Homo sapiens: one gene and its partner. The protein of the gene in region 1 purifies or fractionates together with the protein of each later gene. This does not show direct contact. Each region holds a gene or a part of one and is shown in the gene's direction. Other genes may lie near its edges.

Region 1 (3,814 bases):
GTGGCCCTGCAGACGGAGCTTAAGGGACTGGTGTTGTCGAGCCCCCATTGGTTTGTCCCTGCATGCTCCTTGATGCTGTACTGACCTGTGCAGGTGAGGGTTCAGCGTCACCCCCGTTTCAGGAGTCATGGAGTCCGGTGTGAACCCACCTCGACTGAGTCCTGCTGCTCCTTCTACCCTAACGAGATGGGTGTTGGTCTCTTTCTAGTCCACTTGCTCCCCAAATCCTCGCAGGCTTCTCTGTGTTCAGGAAGACAAGCAGTCTCTCAGAAAGAGACACACCCACCCCCCAAAAAAATCCTTGGAATTTGTATGTGCAGCTCACCAGCCGTGCTCCTGTGTGCATTAGTCGTGGGGTGTCCTGTTGGGTTCCCTCATGAGGCTGATCCTGGCAGCATGCAGAGGGCCTCATCCTTAGGGCTTCACCAGGCGTCAGTAGTCTCGGCAGGATGGTTGGGACAGGCGAGGCACGGTGCTCACCTGGGCTGCTCTCTTCTCCCCAGTGGTGTCCATGGGCTCTGGAGACCATCAGTTCAACCTCGCAGAGATCCTGTCACAGAACTACAGTGTTAGGGGGGAGTGCGAGGAGGCCTCGAGGTGCCCAGACAAGCCCAAGGAGGAGCTGGAGAAGGACTTCATCTCCCAGGTACTTGGCCAAGGTGATCCTGCCCCTGTGTTGGGTGGAGCCCTCCGGGGTAAGCCTCATGAGTTTTGTGCAGCTCAGATTCCACATTGGTAAGTGCTAAATTGTACATCTTTTTGCAAAGTGCCAGATGCTGTCCTAGTAGCTGAAATTCAGTGGAGACCAGGTCTTTCATGGGGCTCTCTGAGCAGCACGGTGGTCAAGGATTAAGCCAGCTGCTCTCAAATCTTCTGGTCTCAGAACCTGCTTTGTACTCTTAAAAATTATTGAGAGTTTCAGGCTGGGTGCAGTGGCTCACGCTTGTAATCCCAGCACTTTGGGAGGCTGAGGCGGGTGGATCACTTGAGATCAGGAGTTCGAGACCAGCTTGGCCAACATGGTGAAACCCCATCTCTACTAAGAATACAAAATTGTCGGGCGCGGTGGCTCACACCTGTAATCCCAGCACTTTGGGAGGCCGAGGTGCGCGGATCACAAGGTCAGGAGATCGAGACCGTCCTGGCTAACACGGTGAAACCCTGTCTCTACTAAAAATACAAAAACAAAATTAGCCGGGCATAGTGGCGGGTGACTGTAGTCCCAGCTACTCGGGAGGCTGAGGCGGGAGAATGACGTGAACCCGGGAGACGGAGCTTGCAGTGAGCTGAGATCGTGCCACTGCACTCCAGCCTGGGTGACACAGCGAGACTCCGTCTCCAAAAAAGAAAAAAAAGAATACAAAATTAGCCAGGCGTGGTGGTGCACGTCTATAGTCCCAGCTACTCGGGAGGCTGAGGCAGGAGAATCCCTTGAACCTGGGAGGCGGAGGTTGCGGTGAGCCGAGATCACGCCATTGCACTCCAGCCTGGGCGACAGAGTGAGACCCTGTCTCAAAAAAAAAAATTAAAAAAAATTAGAGTTTCAAGGAGCTTTGTTAATGTGCTTTATCTATTGCTTTTTTATTACATGAAAAGTTAAAACTGACATGTAAATTGGCCGGATGCAGTGGCTCATGCCTGTAATCCCAGCACTTTGGGAGGCCGAGGTAGGCGGATCATGAGGTCAGGAGTTTGAGCCTAGCCTGGCCAACGTAGTGAAACCCTGTCTGTACTAAAAATACAAAAATTGTTGGGCGCGGTGGCTCATGCTTGTAATCCCAGCACTTTGGGAGGCTGAGGCAGGTGGATCACCTGAGGTCAGGAGTTCTAGATCAGGCTGGCCAACATGGTGAAACCCCGTCTCTACTAAAAATACAAAAACAAAATTAGCCGGGCATAGTGGCGGGTGACTGTAGTCCCAGCTACTCGGGAGGCTGAGGCGGGAGAATGACGTGAACCCGGGAGACGGAGCTTGCAGTGAGCTGAGATCGTGCCACTGCACTCCAGCCTGGGTGACACAGCGAGACTCCGTCTCCAAAAAAGAAAAAAAAGAATACAAAATTAGCCAGGCGTGGTGGTGCACGTCTATAGTCCCAGCTACTCGGGAGGCTGAGGCAGGAGAATCCCTTGAACCTGGGAGGCGGAGGTTGCGGTGAGCCGAGATCACGCCATTGCACTCCAGCCTGGGCGACAGAGTGAGACCCTGTCTCAAAAAAAAAAATTAAAAAAAATTAGAGTTTCAAGGAGCTTTGTTAATGTGCTTTATCTATTGCTTTTTTATTACATGAAAAGTTAAAACTGACATGTAAATTGGCCGGATGCAGTGGCTCATGCCTGTAATCCCAGCACTTTGGGAGGCCGAGGTAGGCGGATCATGAGGTCAGGAGTTTGAGCCTAGCCTGGCCAACGTAGTGAAACCCTGTCTGTACTAAAAATACAAAAATTGTTGGGCGCGGTGGCTCATGCTTGTAATCCCAGCACTTTGGGAGGCTGAGGCAGGTGGATCACCTGAGGTCAGGAGTTCTAGATCAGGCTGGCCAACATGGTGAAACCCCGTCTCTACTAAAAATACAAAAATTAGCCGGGCGTGGTAGCAGGCGCCTGTAATCCCAGCACTCAAAGGGCTGAGGCAGGAGAATCGCTTGAACCCAGGAGGCGGAGGTTGCAGTGAGCCGAGATCAGGCCATTGCACTCTAGCCTGGGGGACAGAGCAAGACTGTGTCTCAAAAAAACAAAAAAAATTGACATGTAAAAATACTTATTCGCTAACTCATTTTAAAATGAGCTGAGATGTGCCACTGCAGTCCAGCCTGAGTGACACAGTGAAACTCCATCTCAAGAAAAAAAAAGAATACGAAAATTGCCAGGCGTGGTGGTGCACGTCTGTAGTCCTAGCTACTCAGGAGGCTGAATAAATCAGTGACATGTTAATATAAATATTTTTATGAAAATAAAAAGAACTGTCCCAAAAGAAAAAAAATTAGAAGACTGAATTTTTAGTTTTCCATATCTCTTTGAATGTAGAAGCAAATATGAAAATCCAGCTTCTGTCTTTTTATTTTTTTGAGATGGAGTCTTGCTCTGTTTCCCAGGCTGGAGTGCAGTGGTGTGATCTTGGCTCACTGCATCCTCCGCCTCCTGGGCTCAAGTGATTCTCCTACCTCAGCCTCCCGAGTAGCTGGGACCACAGGTGCATGCCACCACGCCCGGCAAATTTTTGTATTTTTAGCAGAGACGGGGTTTCATCATGTTGGACAGGCTGGTCTCAAACTCTTGACCTTGTGATCTGCCCACCTCGGCCTCCCAAAGTGCTGGATTACAGGCATGAGCCACCACGCCTGGCCAAGCTTCTGTCTTTAAAACATTTATTTATTTTTTTGAGACTGGATCTCACTTTTGCCTAGGCTGGAGTGCAGTGGTGCAATCATAGTTTACTGCAGCCTCGAACTCCTGGGCTCAAGGGATGCTCCTGCCTCAGCCTCCTGAATAACTGGGACTATAGTCGCACGCCACCACACCTCACCAACGTTTTTATTTTATTTCTTTGTGGAGTTCTTGCTATGTTGCTAGGGTTGGTCTCAAACTGTTGGCCTCAAGCAATTTTTCTACCTAGGTCTCCCAAAGTGTTGGGAGTATAGGTGTGAGCCACTGTACCTGACCCAGTTTCTGTCTTTTTTTTTTTTTTCTGGGGACAGAGTCTCACTCTGTTGCCCAGACTGGAGTTCAGTGGTGCAATCTGGGCTCACTGGAACCTCTACCTCTTGGGTTCAAGTGATTCTCGTGCCTTAGCCTCCTGAGTAGCTGGGACTACAGG
Region 2 (3,814 bases), on another chromosome or scaffold:
TAGCTCACTGCAGCCTCGAACTCCTGGGCACAAGCAGTCCTGGCACCTCAGTCTTCTGAATAGCTGGTACTACAGGCGTGTGCCACCATGCCTGGCTATAAATGCTGTTTTCAGTCATAGGCTTTGAACTATTTAAAAAAAAATGCCCACAATCCTTTGTTACATGTTATTTGTTAGTGAATATATATAGTGGTGTGTATAGTTTTTCTCAAAGCAGTTTTCATCCTGCTTTCCTGTGCTGCTAACGTGTTGACTTGTATGGATATTTTGAGGTGGGGGGAAATGAGAGGTGCAGTTTTAGAATTTCTGAGTCTGAGAATTTTAATTCGTCATTACTTTATGTGGAATCTTTTTTTTTTTTTTCTTTTTTGACACAGGGTCTTGCTCTGTCGCCAGGCTGGAGGCAGTGGCACAATCTCGGCTCTCTGCAACCTCCGCCTCCCGGGTTCAAGCGATTATTCTGCCTCAGCCTCTTGAGTAGCTGGGACTACTGGCATGTGCTACCACGCTGAGCTAATTTTTGTATTTTTAGTAGAGATGGGGTTTCACCATGTTGGCCAGAATGGTCTCAATCTCTTGACCTTGTGATCCGCCTGCCTCAGCCTCCCAAAGTAGTGGGATTACAGGCGTGAGCCATCGCTCCTGCCCAATTTTTTATTTCTACCATATTCTCAAGATACATTGGTACAGTTCTTAGGCTTTCAATGGATGATTGGGAGGAGGGGGAAACTAGATGTTTATGTTGTTTTTGGATGAATTATACACAATATATCTGGGTCATACGTATTTGCCTTTAACTCCCTATCTTTTATTTTGGAAGAATTAGTGGTGAATTCTTTATATTGAAAGTGAGTTTTTCAATTTTAAAGTTGGAAAATCATCTGGCAACATCATGACTATACTAAAAACCAATGAATTGTATACTCTAAAATTGCTGCAATATTATGTTTTATGTTATGTGAATTTAATCTCAAAACATACAGGAAAATATCAGCTGGCAGTTTAATGGCCCTTTCCGGTTTGTGTTGCAATTCTTAGTTGTGATGGATGTGTGTTCGCTTTACAGGGTTGTTAATCACCGTGTGGATTTTTAGAGTTTTTGAGTGTTTTTGAGGAATGGCTCAGGAAATCTGATGTGTTACTTGGATTCCTAACATCTTTTTTTTTTTTTCTCTTCAAGTCTTGTTAATGGATCATTTTGTACTTTTAAAATCCCTTTCTCCTCTCTCTCTCCAGTCTTATTGCCAGCAGTTTTGAAGATGACTCCCGTGTAGCCTCACCGTTAGACCAGAACGGAAGCTTCAATGTTGTTATTAAAGAGGAACCTCTAGATGATTATGACTACGAACTTGGTGAGTGCCCAGAAGGGGTCACTGTGAAACAGGAAGAGACAGATGAAGAGACGGATGTATACTCAAACAGTGATGATGATCCTATACTAGAGAAACAGCTAAAGAGGCACAATAAAGTTGACAACCCAGAAGCTGACCATCTATCTTCTAAATGGCTTCCAAGCAGCCCATCAGGTGTTGCTAAAGCTAAAATGTTCAAATTAGACACTGGAAAGATGCCAGTAGTCTATCTGGAGCCCTGTGCTGTCACCAGAAGCACAGTTAAGATTTCTGAACTCCCCGATAACATGCTTTCCACATCTCGAAAGGATAAATCTTCTATGTTGGCAGAATTGGAATATTTGCCTACATACATTGAAAATTCCAATGAGACTGCCTTCTGCTTAGGCAAGGAATCAGAAAATGGTCTTAGAAAACATTCACCAGATCTCAGAGTGGTACAAAAATATCCCTTACTGAAAGAGCCTCAGTGGAAATATCCTGATATATCTGACAGCATTAGCACAGAAAGAATACTCGACGATTCAAAGGATTCAGTTGGAGACTCACTTTCAGGAAAAGAGGACTTGGGCAGAAAGAGAACAACTATGCTTAAGATTGCAACAGCCGCAAAGGTAGTGAATGCTAATCAGAATGCCTCTCCAAATGTCCCTGGAAAAAGAGGAAGGCCACGAAAATTGAAACTCTGTAAGGCAGGACGACCACCTAAGAACACAGGAAAGTCTTTAATTTCTACAAAGAATACACCTGTAAGCCCTGGGAGTACCTTTCCAGATGTGAAGCCTGATCTGGAAGATGTGGATGGTGTTCTCTTTGTTTCCTTTGAATCAAAGGTAAGATTGTAATTTTCAGGATTCTTTAAGGCTAATTAGTCATACTTGAATTGTATACTGGCTTGTAAGTAACTCGATTTACAATCTAGTTTTGTGATATCTATTTGTGAGGGTGTATGGGGGGTGGAGTTGGGAGGGAAGTGTCTCCAAAATGTTTGGTTTAGTTAATAGGAATAACTTAAGATACTTCATTTGAATAGACTTAAAAAAGTATGTCTTGCTTAGATTTCAGTTTACGATTTTTGCATAGCTGTGTTTAAAAAAAGTCTTCGGGTCTTACTGGAATTTTCATCATTATGGATTTTGGAAAGGACTAAAAATACATGAAATATTTACTAACTCTTTGGTGACGCTCCATTTCTTTTACCTCCTGGTTTTCTTTTATTTTTCTTTTCTTTTTTTTTTTTTTTTGAGACAGAGTCTTGCTCTGTTGCCCAGGCTGGAGTTCAGTGGCACGATCTCAGCTCACTGCAATCTCCGTCTCCCGAGTTCAAGCCATTCTCGTGCCCCAGCCTCACGAGTAGCTGGGATTACAGGCGTGTGCCACCACACCCAGCTAATTTTTGTAATTTTGGTAGAGACGGGGTTTTGCAATGTTGGCCAGCTAATTTCTAACTTCTGGCCTCCAGCAGTCTGCCTGCTTCAGCCTCCCAAAGTGCTGGGATTACATGCATGAGCCACCGCTCCTGGCCCTGGTTTTCAGTAGTAGTAGTAGAGTACCATTGGAGAACCAAATATTAACAGTCATCTTAACTCTCCTGTCTTACACATTGAAGTCTCTGTTTATTCCACTCTGACTCTTCAACCAGATTATTTTTCTTGGAAATTTTTATAGAAGCCCAGTCTTTTTTTATTTATTTTTTGAGATGGAGTCTCGGTCTGTGGCTCATGCTGGAGTGCAGTAGCGCAATCTTGGCTCACTGCAAACTCCGCCTCCTGTGTTCTTGCCATTCCCCTGCCTCAGACTCCCGAGTAGCTGGGACTACAGGTGCTCGCCACCATGCCCGGCTAATTTTTTTTGTATTTTTAGTAGAGACGGGGTTTCACCATATTAGCCAGGATGGTCTCGATCTCCTGGCCTCGTGATCCTCCTGCCTCAGCCTCCCAAAGTGCTGGAATTACAAGCGTGAGCCACTGCCCCTGGCCTCTTTTTTTTTTTTTTTTTGAGACGGAATCTTGCTCTGTCACCAGCTGGAGTGCAGTGGCACAATCTTGGCTCACTGCAACCTCTGTTTCCCGGGTTCAAGCAGTTCCCCTGCCTCAGCCTCCCGAGTAGCTGGGACTACAGGTGTGCATCACCATGCCCAGCTATTTTTTTTATTTTAGTAGAGACAGGGTTTCACCATGTGGCCAGGATGGTCTCAATCTCCTGACCTTGTGATCCACCTGCCTCGGCCTCCCAAAGTGCTGGGATTATAGGCGTGAGCCACTGTGCCAGGCTGTCTTTCTTAATTGACTACACAGATGTTGGATATTTAATCCCTTCTACCTGTTCTTTTCCTCCCTTCTTGTTAGCTGAGTAAGCTATCTGAATATAGGCTCTGAGAAGTGAACATGCAAATTGGCGTATACTTTGAGGTCAGTTAGCTCAGTATGACATCGTATTCACATTTTTTTACTTCCCCCTTT

Evidence for each region.
Region 2: the proteins of MIER2 (region 1) and MGA purify together in Homo sapiens (affinity purification with mass spectrometry; 3 studies listed by BioGRID and IntAct, with this or other methods). This does not show direct contact.

Annotation. Positions count from the first base shown.
Region 1 is NC_000019.10:331,232-335,045, reverse strand, and holds part of MIER2 (mesoderm induction early response protein 2), read left to right. Parts: intron 1-503; coding exon 504-646; intron 647-3,814. UniProt on the Homo sapiens protein: Transcriptional repressor.
Region 2 is NC_000015.10:41,694,839-41,698,652, forward strand, and holds part of MGA (MAX gene-associated protein), read left to right. Parts: intron 1-1,236; coding exon 1,237-2,185; intron 2,186-3,814. UniProt on the Homo sapiens protein: Functions as a dual-specificity transcription factor, regulating the expression of both MAX-network and T-box family target genes. Functions as a repressor or an activator.